4 linked regions of the Homo sapiens genome follow. The protein of the gene in region 1 purifies or fractionates together with the protein of each later gene. This does not show direct contact. Each region holds a gene or a part of one and is shown in the gene's direction. Other genes may lie near its edges.

What was found. The genes of interacting proteins can lie anywhere in the genome.
Region 2: the proteins of RAB5B (region 1) and VPS4B fractionate together in Homo sapiens (co-fractionation; one large-scale study listed by BioGRID). This does not show direct contact.
Region 3: the proteins of RAB5B (region 1) and PPM1H purify together in Homo sapiens (co-immunoprecipitation; one study listed by IntAct). This does not show direct contact.
Region 4: the proteins of RAB5B (region 1) and MAP3K11 fractionate together in Homo sapiens (co-fractionation; one large-scale study listed by BioGRID). This does not show direct contact.

The regions. Positions count from the first base shown.
Region 1 is NC_000012.12:55,980,578-55,984,077, forward strand, and holds part of RAB5B (ras-related protein Rab-5B), read left to right. Parts: intron 1-3,500. UniProt on the Homo sapiens protein: The small GTPases Rab are key regulators of intracellular membrane trafficking, from the formation of transport vesicles to their fusion with membranes.
Region 2 is NC_000018.10:63,401,977-63,405,476, reverse strand, and holds part of VPS4B (vacuolar protein sorting-associated protein 4B), read left to right. Parts: intron 1-441; exon of another isoform or gene 442-1,650; coding exon 1,651-1,770; exon of another isoform or gene 1,771-2,746; intron 2,747-3,500.
Region 3 is NC_000012.12:62,802,651-62,806,150, reverse strand, and holds part of PPM1H (protein phosphatase 1H), read left to right. Parts: intron 1-3,500. UniProt on the Homo sapiens protein: Dephosphorylates CDKN1B at 'Thr-187', thus removing a signal for proteasomal degradation.
Region 4 is NC_000011.10:65,607,722-65,611,221, reverse strand, and holds part of MAP3K11 (mitogen-activated protein kinase kinase kinase 11), read left to right. Parts: intron 1-2,773; coding exon 2,774-2,954; intron 2,955-3,151; coding exon 3,152-3,300; intron 3,301-3,405; coding exon 3,406-3,500. UniProt on the Homo sapiens protein: Activates the JUN N-terminal pathway. Required for serum-stimulated cell proliferation and for mitogen and cytokine activation of MAPK14 (p38), MAPK3 (ERK) and MAPK8 (JNK1) through phosphorylation and activation of MAP2K4/MKK4 and MAP2K7/MKK7.

The DNA.
Region 1 (3,500 bases):
AGCACTAGTTTCGAAAAATCGGATTCCATGCTCTCGAGCCAACTTATCGGCCTGCTCCTTCTGCACCTTCCTCTTGGCCTCCATGTCACATTTGTTCCCTAGCAAGAGGTGCTCCACCCCAGCTGAGGCATTCTCCATGATGCTTTTCATCCAGTTCTGAATATTCTCGAAAGATTTCTCATCCGTGATGTCGTATGCTAGGATAATGCCCATGGCTCCACGGTAGTAGGCAGTAGTTATTGTCTTGAACCGCTCTTGGCCAGCTGTGTCCCAGACTTGTAGTTTGATCTTCTTCCCCTCTATATCCACAGTGCGGATCTTGAAATCAATTCCGATGGTGGAGATGTAAGTGTTGTTGAAGTTGTCCTCTGCAAAGCGAATGATCAGACAAGTCTTGCCCACCCCCGAGTCCCCGATCAGCAGCAACTTGAAGAGGTGGTCGTAGGCTTTGGCCATGGCGGACACCGGGGGAGCCGGGGAAGGGATGGGGCTATTTATTTATTTTTGAGACGGAATCGCTCTGTTGTCCAGGCTGGAGTGCAGTCGTGTGATCTCGGCTCACTGCTACCTCTGCCTCCCAGGTTCAAGCAATTCTCGTGCCTCAGCCTCCTGAGTAGCTGGGATTACAGGCACGCACCACCACACCCAGCTAATTTTTGTATTTTTAGTAGAGACAGGTTTTCACCACGTTGGCCAGGCTGGTCTCAAACTCCTGACCTCAGGTGATCTGCCCATCTCGCCCTCCCAAAGTGCTAGGATTACAGGTGTAAGCCACCACGCCTAGCCCAAATTGACTAATTGTATGTGTCTCGGTTTCCTCACCTATAAAATATAGAGACTGGACTAAATGACCTCTAGACTGGCTCTGATCTGCCTGACTGACCTTAAGGCTGACAACTGGTACTGGGTTGGACTCCAGTGGCTATATATACCGAGAACTCTGTCTCTGTTGATAGGTGATAGACTTCTGGAGACTTCATATGTATTTGGTTTAGGGACTCAAAGCTAACAAGTGGAAGGGGGCTTGAGGAATGGAGTCTTACTCTAGCTGGGACTGCTAAGACACTTTTACTGTTATGCCTACTTTGCTGCACTGCTTGGGAGAGTTGCCCACATTAAAGAACATCCTCCATGGGTCTCCTGCATCTAGTGGGCTAACCCATGGTCAGGCCTCAATCCTCCCTAGTTAATGGGTCATTTTATAAGTCATTCTTGTAGAGCCGTACTTCTTTTTTTTTTTTTTTGATGGAGTCTTGCTCTGTCACCCAGGCTGGAGTGCAGTGGCAAAGTCTCGACCCACTGCAGCCTCTGCCTCCCAGGTTCAAGCAATTCTCCTGCTTCAGCCTCCCAAGTAGCTGAGATTACAGGTGTCAGCCACCACACCTGGCTAATTTTTGTGTTTTTAATAGAGACGGGGTTTCACCATGTTCGCCAGACTGGTGTTGAATTCCTGACCTTAGGTGATCCGCCCACCTCAGCCTCCCAAAGTGCTGGGATTTCAGGCATGAGTCACTGCACCCGGCAGAGCTGCACTTCTAAGGGAAGTTAAATCTGATTTCTTCTCTTCTGAGCTAAAAAGGTTGAAAGGAAGAGAAACCTGCCCCATCTCCCTTTTTTTTGTCTCGGGTTTGAAGGTAATAATCATCATACCACTTGACTGGTTTACCAAAAAAAAAAAAAAAAATTAGTATTTTTGTGGGAAAAAATGAGAATAGAAAATAAATAATTGAATCTTATATGTATTATTTCATTTCTGTACCACAGAATTTTTGAGAGTCTAGCTATTATATTTTTTAAATGATACCCTTATAAACATGATAAGATTAAAGATCAAAGCTTAGAGGTGGCTCAACAATTGCTGTGAACAGGGAGGAAGGCAGGACATATTCTTTCTTTTTCAGAGGTGGGATCTCACTATGTTGCCCAGGCTGGTCTCAAACTCCTGGGCTCAAGTGATCCTCCTGCCTTGGCCTCCCAAAATGCTGGTATTACAGGCGTGAACCATGATGTGCAGCCAGAACATACTCTTAAGGCTACATATTAGGGTACGAGGTAGTCTTTTCTAAGTCAGTAGTTACTGATCTCTGAGAATCCAAGGTTGCTTAGTAGCAAGAAAGCTTGCTGACCACATCTGGGCTCTGGCTTGACTTCCCATCTCTGAGAGTTAGTGACAGAGACTTTGCAACTCAAGCGTGTCTGCAATTGTTTCCTGTCTTTACACTCCCCCAGAGCTCAAGTGATATGTTTAGCCATGAGAATTCAGTCCATTCTAACTCCCACATTTTCCTTTATTGTAGAGTAGTAACATTGAGGCTTAATATTCTACCCCTTGGATCACATGCTTTGAAATACATAAAAATGTAAGGGAGTAAGTTGAAAAAACCAGTAACTTTTTCTATTGTTTCTTGAGAGTATAGCATATATATGTCACCTGAAGGAAACTTGATCAGCTTATCATCTGTCCTTTTTTTTTTATTATGGTGTCACCTGTCTTCTCTTTTATTTATTTTTTATTTTGAGAGACGGAGTCTTGCTCTGTTGCCCAGGCTGGAGTACAGTGGCATAATCTCAGCTCACTGCAACCTCCGCCCTCTGGGTTCAAGCGATTCTCCTGCCTCAGCTTCCCAAGTAGCTGGGACTACAGGCATGTGGCGCTACACCCAGCTAATTTTTGTATTTTTTAGTAGAGACGGGGTTTCACTATATGTTGGCCAGGCTGGTCTCAAACTCCTGACCTCTCAAACACCAGAGTGAGACTCTCTCTAAAAATGGAAAATAAATTTTAAAATGTTATAATTAAAGATACTCATTTAAATTGAATAAATTTAGCTTTATGAAAAATTTGCTGTATCATCTTTATTTTGATCCTTTCGTCATAGGCCATTGAAAACTTAATCATAAAATGGTACATGTATATCTGAATTTTTAAGACTGACTGACCAAGGGGACTACAGAATACCCAGTAGAATCAAAGTAATTGTCATGTTCCTCTGTATTAATCTAGTCTACTTTGGGACCTTGAGTTCTCACCTCTCATTCTTTTGCTAACTTCCTCTTTACCCTTTAGTTATGTCTCCTTTTTTTTTTTTTTTTTTTTCCAGAGATAGCGTCTTGTTCTGTCGCCCAGGCTGGAGTGCAGTGGTGTAATCAGCTCACTACAACCTTCAACTCCTGGGCTCCAGTGATTCTCCCACCACAGCCTCTGGAGTAGCTGGGATTACAGGCACATACCACCATGCCCAGCTAATTTTTTTAAATGTTTTCTAGAGACTCAGTCTCGCTATGTTGCCTAGGCTGGTCTCAAACTCCTCACCTCAAGCAAGGCTTCCCCTTTTATCTCCCAAACCCCTGGGATTACAGGCATGGGCCGCTCTGCCAGGCCTGTTTTTTCTCTTTTTCTTTCTCTGTACCACTTTCATATTGTGGCTTCTTCCCTGCCCCCGATCTCCCCCCTACCCACCCCAGGTGGAGTCTTGCTCTGTTACCCAGGCTGGAGTGTG
Region 2 (3,500 bases), on another chromosome or scaffold:
CTACTTTTTAATGGTTTGCTGCTGGATTTCATACTATTGTATCTTTTTTGAATTTTTCCTTGTTTTTTGAACAGTATTTTAAATCTTTTACTTCTGTTTTAGATTATGATATTAAGTGTATATTTGTTAAAATTAAAAATCGGTTTGTGATTTGAGTTTTCTGTTAGCTAATTTTATTCAGTGAATTTTTTGTGATTAAGTAATATACTAGTAAATAGTATAGTCAAAGACCGGATAAATTTATATCATTGGAAGTACATTCCATTTGTTAGCATTTTTCATAATCCCATCCCCCCTTTTTAATTTTGCAAACCATGTCTAGTATGAGATTGTTTATCAGTAAACATTCCAAAGTCACCTTTTAACTTAGAAGTATTATATATGAAAACAAATCATGACACATTTTTAAAATTTATAGCAGAAATCTTGAGTCAGACGGTATACATATATAAAATAAAGTTTATTTTTGTTTAACTGACATGAAATCCTAGGATTACTAATCTTAATGAAACATAAAAAAGACGAAATGAATTTACTTTTTTCTTACTTTATAGTAGTCTGAACTTTTGGAATACAAAATGCTTATGGTTTCATGTAATTTTAATCTAGTAGCTAAAGATTTTCATAATTTAGGGAAGTAAGTTGCTAGTAACTAGTCTTAGAGTAACAGATTATCTTTCCTAACAAGAAGAAACAATCAGTAGCAGTGATTTCATAAAGTAATAGATTGTATAAGTGGTGGTGTTCTGTTACACTTAAAACAACTAACTACATGTCATCTTAGAACAGGCTGCTTCATAGTTTATAGTGGAACAGTTTCCATATTCTAGAAAATTAGAAAAGCTTTTGATAAAAGAGAACTAGAAAATTTGTCAGTAGGCTATATTAAAAGACATCCTTCTTGGACTCTTACTGCAATAATTGCTTTGGCTTTTGAATATACTGCATTCAGAAGCTAAATCTTCCCTGTAAGTTAACTTTGTTAATTAACAAAAGTTGTAAATAGATCTATTTAGCAGCCAAATAGAAACTTGGGCAAATCTTAGGAAAGTATTGCAAATCTGCAGGGGTATCTTTTCTCGGTTTCCCATCATCTGCTTCCATTCCTTCCTTTCCTCTCTCCTTTTCCTTCTCCCTTCTGTCTGTCTGCCTATCTTGAGTTAAATTTGTTAAGCATATTTTTTTTTTCAGTGGTTGAGGAGAGGATTAGATCACCTTTTCTTTTGGTTAACAGGAGAAATGGTAGAACAAGTACTTTTGATACTCCAAAATCAATGTATTCAAATATAACCACCTTATGGAACGTTTGGTGCTTTTCCAAACACTCTAATATTCATTATGTCATTTGATTTTCGCACCAACCTATCTAAGTAGTTTGGGCAGATGGTATTATTTTCATTTCACAAGTGAGGAAGCTGAAACAGAAGGGTAAAGTAACATGCCCCAGGTTGTCTAGTCATCCACCTGGTTCCTAGTCCTATTGACTACTCCCTAACACCTGCTTCCTGCTCACGCTATTTCAAAAAGGTTGTTAGTACATAAAACTTTCCCAATTTTATAATGCGTTTCTTTAACATCATTATTTCATGTTGTCTTCTAACTTTGGTGAAATAGTCTTTCTTAATTTAAAGATAACGTAATTTTTTGCAGGTGCCATTGTTATAGAACGACCAAATGTGAAATGGAGTGACGTTGCTGGACTTGAAGGAGCCAAAGAAGCACTGAAAGAGGCTGTGATACTGCCTATTAAATTTCCTCATCTTTTTACAGGTGACATAACTTTTAAATAATTTTATTTCATGAGTTTGTAAAAGTTCATTGATGACTGAGGTGAAGCATTGTCATTCTTGTCACTAATGAATTATCTTAAATAAATTGTGACTGTTAAAAGGTGGTGATATATCTTTATACAAGATGTTTTATTTCTTATACATATCCATATTTGCAGTGTATATATATTGCAAAACAACCTAAATGTCAACCAGTAGGGTAATTCACCAACATGCAGTGGAATACTATGCACTCAGTAAAATAGAGTGTACATCTACATTAATAAATTGAAATCTGCATTGTATTTTATTGAAGAATGTCCACATCTATTGCAAAGATCAAAAAGCAGTTATAAACTGAATAGTATGATTCCATGTTTGCTAAATGTGTATGCTGAGAAGTAAGTATAGTTAGATTCACATAGAAATATTAATATATGCCTAGGGGATAAGATTATAGGAGATTTTTACTTTTGACTTTCATCTGAATTTTTGCAATGGTTATGATTTTTAAAGAGTATTTCTTAAAAAGAGGAGTAAGAATCACTTAACAGTTTCAGAGGAAGTGCATAACCTCTAGTAGCAAAAGGACATTTCATTATCACTGTGAAGAGAATATTGCTGACCTACCATCTGGGGAAACTTACAAGTTCTAGTTCCAGCAGTAAGTGATATGTCTGTGCTAAACCATTCCTTTATATTATCCTTCTTGTGACTGATAGCCTTGACTGTAATATGGCCACACCCACAGTCTGACAGTCAGAGGTTTTTCCTTTTGCAAACATGTTGGTTTATGTCAACAGCAAATCTGCAATGTTGGCCTCAGACTGAAGAGTCCAGACAGTCGTATCGTATAGAGCAGTGATGAAGAGCAAAAAGCCTGTAGGCCACGCACTGTCCGCCTAGCTTCAAGGTGCAGTTTACTACCCAACTTCAGGAGTATGAAACTTAACAGCATAAAAGTTGACATCATAATCCTATAAAAGCACAAAAATATGGTTGAACTCATTTTATGGTATATTACTTATACCACTTTTTCTCAAACATGAGTCATTGATGTATCATCTTCATGAATTTTTCCATGTATGTGTACCATTACTAATTTTTAATATTTTTCTTTGCTTATTTTTTAGAACAACATTTTTACTAGAGTATAGCATAAATATACAGAGACATACAGGAGCCCCTGGGTGTTGGGCTTCCTTAATTGTCACAAAGCAAGCATGCCAGTGTCATCAACCAGATCCAGAAATAACAGCATTGCCAGGGACCTGGCAGGAGCCTTCTGCCTCATTCCTCCCGAGAGGTCATCTCTCTCTCTCGACTTCTAACGCCAGAGATTATTTTGCCTGTATTTGAACTTTAAATCATCTCACATATTTTTACTTAGTAACGTTATTGAAAAGACTGCTTTGTGCCTTTATAAGTGGAAAAAAAAGTGTTTTTCCAATACACATTAAAAAATTATTTAAAGTATATACCACCTAAAAGTACTTCATGTTATACCAGTGGTATATGTACCATACTCAGACACTGACTTGTAAATGTATACATGTAAAATAGGAAAATGAAATTCAAGTAACAGTTGCTTTCATAACAGTTAAGTGAAACAGTGTTATTCATCTGCATATCATTCTTTTGCAGATACTGTGTACACATCCATAGTTTGCACCTAGCAGTTTTTTTTGTTTTGTTTTGTTTTGTTTCTTTTTTTGAGACAGAGTTTCACTC
Region 3 (3,500 bases), 6.8 Mb from region 1:
GATAAGCCAGCTAGTCAGAAGTAGATGTTATATCCATACCTTACCTCTTTGTCCACCAATTTTCTGAAAATAGAGATCCCAAATATTTATTTTTCTTAGTGTTTTATATCCTACCCCTCTAGTTACATTTTTTCAAATGTAATGTTTTATTTCTCCCAGTTTTATTGAGGTATGATTGACAGAAATCATGTATTTAAGGTGTGCATGATTTGATATACGGGTGCATTGTGAAATGACTGCCACAATCAAGTTAATACATCCATTCCCTTACATAGTTACCAGTTTTTGTGTGTTTGTGGTGAGGACACTTAAAATCTACTCTCTCAGGTAATTTCAAGTATACAGTACAGTGTTACTAACTAAAGTCACCATACTGTACATTCGATCCCCAGAACTTACTCATTTTATACCTGAAACTTTGTACCTTTTGACCATTATCTCCCCACTTTCCTCAACCCCAGCCCCTGGCAACCACCATTCGACTCTCTGCTTCTACGAGTTTGACTCTTTTTTAGATTCCACATATGAGATCAAGTGGTATTTGTCTTTCTGTGTCTGGTTTATTTCACTTAGCATAATGCCCTCCAGGTTCATTCATGTTGTTGCAAATGGCAGAATTTCCTTCTTTTTGTGGCTGAATAATATCTTATTGTATGTAAATAATATACACCACATTTTCTTTACCATTCATCTGTTGATGGATGCTAAGGTTGTTTCAGTGTCTTGGCTGTTGTGAATAATGCTGCAATGAACGTTGGGCTATAGATACTGATTTCATTTCCTTTTGTTATATAACCAGCAGTAAAATTGCTTTATATGATGGTTCTATTTTTAATTTTTTGAGGAACCTCCATACTGTTTTCTGTAATGGCTGTACCAATTTACATTCCCACTGACAGGACAGAAGTTTCCTTTTTCTACACATCCTCACTAACACTTGTCTCGTTTTTTTGATAATAGCGATCCTAACAGGTGTGAGGTGCTATCTCATTGTGGTTTTGATTTGCATTTTCCTGATGATTATTGATTTTGAGCATGTTTTCATATACTTGTTAGCCACTTGCTTATCTTTATTTGAGAAATGTCTATTCAGATCCTTTGTCCGTTTTTTAATAAAAAACAAAAAGATTTTTAAAAAGTGAGTTTAATACATTGCAGTAGAAATTAACCAAAATGGGCCGGGCGCGGTGGCTCAGGCCTGTAATCCCAGCACTTTGGGAGGCCGAGGCGGGCGGATCACGAGGTCAGGAGATCGAGACCATCCCAGCTAAAACGGTGAAACCCCGTCTCTACTAAAAATACAAAAAATTAGCCGGGCGTAGTGGCGGGCGCCTGTAGTCCCAGCTACTTGGGAGGCTGAGGCAGGAGAATGGCGTGAACCTGGGAGGCGGAGCTTGCAGTGAGCCGAGATCCCGCCACTGCACTCCAGCCTGGGCGACAGAGCGAGACTCCGTCTCAAAAAAAAAAAAAAAAAGAAAAAAAAAGAAATTAACCAAAATGAAGCATTAAAAAAATGAAAGCATCCTTAATGAGCTATGGGACAACCTCTAGGGACTACTACAGGTGTAATTAGATTCTTCCAAGGAGAAAAGAGAGAAGGATACCAAAAAAAATTTTTTTTAAGAAATAATGGGTGAAATTTTTCTAAATCATATGAAATAACTGTAAGTCCACAGATCTAGAAAGACAAACTCCAAGCACATGAAACATGAAGAAAATGACACTAAGGTACATCATGCTCAAATTGCTCAAAGCCAGGATAAATGCAACTTTATTTTCTTAAACAATCTTTTTTTTTTGAGACAGGGTCACTCTGTCACCCCAGCTGGAATACAGTGGCAAGATCTTGGCCTGTTGCAGCCTCCTTCTCCTCGATTCAAGGGATTCTCCCATTTCAACTTTCTGAGTAGCTGGGATTACAGGCGTGAGCCACTGTGCCCAGCTATTTTCTTATACAATCTTTAGGCCTTTTCTTTTTTCTTGCCTATCTAGAACCTTCCAGTATCATATTGAATAGAAGTAGTGAGAGCATACTTTTTTTGTTTTGCCCAGTGTTATGGGAAAGCATGCAGTATTTCACCATGAAATATGATATGAGCTAAAGGTTTTCCCTAGATGCCCCTTATCTGGTTGGGGAAGGTCCTTAATTTCAGTTCACTGAGTTTTATGAAAGGTATCGATGGTGAGCATCTTTTCACAAGCCTGCTGGCCATTTATTTTATGTCATCTTTGATGAAATGTCTCTTCAAGCCCTTTGCCCATTTTTTCATCGGCTTGCTTGTTTTGTTTTGTTTGCAATAGAATTGTAGGAGTTTCTTGTGTATTTTGAAAATTAACCCCTTATCACACACATGCTTTGCAAGGGTTTTTTCTTATGCCATAGGCTACCTACCTTTTGGTTTTGTTGATTACTTCCTTTGCTGCGCAGAAACATTTTAGTTTAATGTAGTCCCACTTGTTTGTTTTTGCTTCATTGCCTGTGCTTTGGGTATCATATCTAAATAATCATTGCCAAGACCAATATCAAGGAGTTTTTTTCCCCCATGTTTTTTTCTAGGAGTTTTATGATTTCACGTCTTACATCTAAGTCTTTAGGCTATTTTGAGTTGGATTCTGTATATGATATAAGAATAGGGCCCAATTTCATTCTTTTGCATGTGGATATTCACTTTTCCTAATACCATTTATTGCAGACACTCTTCTTTCCCTAATGTGTATTCTTGGTACCCTTGTCAAAGATTAGTTGACAACATATGTGTGGGTTTATTTCTGAGCTCTCTATTCTATCAGCTATGTCATAATTGAGCTCCTTTTCTCTAAGATCTAACACGTGTGTAATTCAAACATGGGTTCAAAAGTGCTCATCTTGAAGTAGTCTAGAAATCCACCAGCAGCCACTAAACCCAACGTAGATGAGGGAACACGGGTTGCATGTAGCTGTAAGGCAAGAAGAAGGAATGGAGAGACCGAGAGTGACATCAGCTGGAGAACTAAGGGAGGTGGGAAGTATAAAGAGGAGATTTGAATTGGCTGCATCTTGTGAGGCCTGGGCTAGACTGGCTGTCTAGGGTGAAAACATGTTCTAAAAATTCAGGATGTAGACCAAGAAAGATGGGACAATTATCCCAGCATTTAAGGGCTCTAAAAGGGGAAAATGGGTCTACTTATTTCCCGTTGGAAAACCTGAGAAAGGGCGTTTTTCCAAGGCCCCAGATCAAACCTACTCTGGGGTTGAAATAGATGGGAGGTTCCAGGCACGGTGGCTCACGCCTGTAATCCCAGCCCTTTGGGATAATCTCAGCACTTTAGGAGGCCAAGGTGGGTGGATCACTTGAGGCCAGGAGTTTGAGACCAGCCTGGGCAACATGGTGAAACCCCATCTCTACTAAAAATACAAAAAAAAATTAGCCTGGTGTGGTGGCACGCGCCTGTAGTCCCAGCTACTCCAGAGGCTGAGGCATGAGAAGACTGAGGCATGAGAATCGCTTGAACCTGGGCGG
Region 4 (3,500 bases), on another chromosome or scaffold:
TCCCCCTCCCAAGTGGGAGACCTGGCCCAGGCCTCCCAGAAAGGAGAAGTAGGGACCACGGGAGGAAAGCGGAAGAGGTGTGAGCTGCCCAGGCCACTCCCAAGCCCCACAGAGGCCAGCCCAGGGAGGGAGCTGGTGGCCAGGTCCCTATCAGAGGCCAGGGAGCCCTAAAGGGGCACTGAGAGCTTCCCCCAGTTTCGGGGTCTCTGGCCCATTCTCCTCTGGGTGACCCCTGACCTCCCATGCCTGGGATCTACATCAGACACCAGAACAGCAGTTCGAGTTGGGACAGTTGAAAGCACAGAGAGGAGCTTGGAGAGAAAGCAGAGGATGGGGCTTAGCAGCTGGCAGAGCCAGGAGCGGGGAGGTAGCAGAAAGACCACAAGTACAAAGAAGTCCTGAAACTTTGGGTGAGTTGTTGCCCCTCTCTGGGCCTCAGATTCCCCACCTGAAAAAGGTGGAGAGTGGCCACCCGGCCTGAGATACTGGAACAGCACTTTGCCAGTCTGGGGTGCCACAAGTGGCTAGAGACAGGCCAAGAAGCAGCAAGTGTTGGTCTTCAAAGGGGAAGGTGGGCCCTGGCACCAGGGGAGGTGCCCATTTCCACTCCACCCACTGCCCCAGCCTGCTGTGTTTCCCCTTTGGAATGAGCTTGTCGTCGGGGGCTTGCTAAATGCTCAGGTCCCCGCCTCCAGCAGCCAGACCAGAGGCTGTTTTGAAGTTGGCAGTAAGGAGTGACAGAGGAGGGAGAGGAGGGCGGAGATACGATAAGTGCTTTAGGACAACTGGCCTTTAGGATGCTTCTGCCAGGTGGCAGCCCCCATGCAAAAACTTTAAAAGTGTGGTCTTGTTTCATGCTCGTGACAGCCATCTGAGGAGGGTTTTGTTGTCATCCTCAGCTTGATGAAGTGTTCAGGACTCAGCTCCAAGGTCTGGCTCAGAGGAGTGGGTAGATTTTGAGACCATTCTCTGGATTAGGAAAAATTGCAGGAAAATCTACTGGGCATGCCGGGATAGTAAAGGTGGTCATGGAGGGCACCTGGACATCAGGTAGAGCTGCTGAACCAATTTGTCTGGCCTGGAGTTGCAAATGTGGAAGATGCCAGTGGGGAGAGGGAGCTGGTACCTGGAAGAGGCTGAGTCAGCCAGGGGCAGTGGGCAGAGGTTGAGGAGAGGTCATGCTCTGAGAAGCACCAGCGCCGAAATGGCTGAAGGTGGAGGACACAGAAACAGAGCCAAGCAGCCAGGGGCTGTGGGGGCTGAGGACGGTGGGGCAGCGGGGACAGCTGGCAGCAGTGCCAGATGCCTCCTCAAGGCCCAGGTGGCCTGGCCAGCAGCAGGATCAGGGCTTGTTGCTTTAAGCCCTGAAAAATGAGCACCCTGGTTCTGCCACCTCCTCTGGGAAGTCTTCCCTGACTCACCAGGCTGTATTAGGTGCCCTTCCCATCTGCCCCACCCCCTGTGCCCTATGCTGCCCCCATGACAGCCGTGTCACACAGGGCAGGAGAGCTGAGAGGTGTGCCCTGACATGGGTCCAGAAACATGGTTGACTTGATATTGCTTCTCTTCCACAGTGCAGTTGGCTGTAACCTGAAAAGTAGAGGGGCCCTTCAGACCCTTCATGACTCTATGACTTTGTCCTCTTTCTATTCCTCGAAAACTTCTCTCATTTGAGCCATTCCTGTCCTGGTGAGAGATATGCAAGTTGCTGCTTCTCCTCTTTGTACCAAGTACGGTGGCCCCATTTGGGTTAAAGCCATGAGCCCCTGCCAAGTCTGACCATCCACGCCTACATTTACCCCAAGCTCCTCCTTTGTGGCCAAGAACCATCACTTTCTTGGACCCCACCCTTTCTCTTCCCTTCCAGCTGCATTGGTAGGTATCTTTTGGAGTCTTTGCTTTGGGAGTGGCTGCACTTGCCACAGTGTGATGTGGGCACTAGGGGCCTGTGGTACCTGCTGGGCTTCTTTTCTCACCAAGAGCTTCCCTCTTGCTCCCCACTCTAAGGGGGGTTCTGATTCACGCTCCTGCCTCAACAAAATGACAGGAGACTCACAGATCTCTCTTGAAATCAAAGCCATAAATGTCCAGAGCTGCCACCTTGCCAGTTTTGCTTCAGTGTAATATTAGGGAAAAGCTAGAACACTGGTTTCAGAGCCACACAGACCAGGTTGTAATCTCTGCTGTATTTGTTGTATGACCTCTGCCAAGTCATTTCCCTGCTTGGTTTCCTCATCTGTGAAACATGAAAAATATTATTTAGCTCATAAATGGTTTTGAGTGCTGGGGTTGAGTGTGAAATGTTTGGCCTCGGCCAGGTGCAGTGGCCTGTAATCCCAGCACTTTGGGAGGCCGAGGCGGGCAGATCACCTGAGGTTGGGAGTTCGAGACCAGCCTGACCAACATGGAGAAACCCTGTCTCTACTAAAAATGCAAAATTAGTCGGGCGTGGTGGCACATGCCCATAATCCCACTACTCGGGAGGCTGGGGCAGGACAATCGCTTGAACCCAGGAGGTGGAGGTTGCAGTGAGCCAAGATCACGCCATTGCACTCCAGCCTGGGCAACAAGAGCAAAACTCTATCTTAAGAAAAAAAAAAAAGGAAAAGAAAAGAAATGTCTGACCTCAAGTAGGTCCTCAAGATCTAGACCAAGTCACCTCTGTGCCCCCAGGACCCAGCCAGGATGTCCGTCAGATGAGTTTGCTCCCAGCTCTTACCCTGTCCCCACCACCTGATCCTGGAGCATCCACAATCTGGCCCCTCTTCTCTAGTTTTGCTGCTGCAGCCCATTGAGAGTGACGACATGGAGCACAAGACCCTGAAGATCACCGACTTTGGCCTGGCCCGAGAGTGGCACAAAACCACACAAATGAGTGCCGCGGGCACCTACGCCTGGATGGCTCCTGAGGTTATCAAGGCCTCCACCTTCTCTAAGGGCAGTGACGTCTGGAGGTGCGGCCCTTGGTGGGGCTGGACGGGCTGCTACGGGGCTGCAGAGGGCAGAGGTGGCTGCCTAAATCTAGGGCTGGGCCAAGTCCAGGGACAGGGACCCAAACCACTTGGCTCCTAGTTGCTTTTGGGTGAAGTGGCAGTAAGGGGGTGGGGGTTGGGAGAGAAAAGGGAACACAGACCTGTTGTCTCGCCCACAGTTTTGGGGTGCTGCTGTGGGAACTGCTGACCGGGGAGGTGCCATACCGTGGCATTGACTGCCTTGCTGTGGCCTATGGCGTAGCTGTTAACAAGCTCACACTGCCCATCCCATCCACCTGCCCCGAGCCCTTCGCACAGCTTATGGCCGGTAAGAGGACGGGGAGGGCAGGTGAGGTACAGAGCTCCCTGGCCCAGGACACATCCACCCACGGACCCCTTCTTATTCTGTCCCCGCTGCACGCCGTGCCCCTAGACTGCTGGGCGCAGGACCCCCACCGCAGGCCCGACTTCGCCTCCATCCTGCAGCAGTTGGAGGCGCTGGAGGCACAGGTCCTACGGGAAATGCCG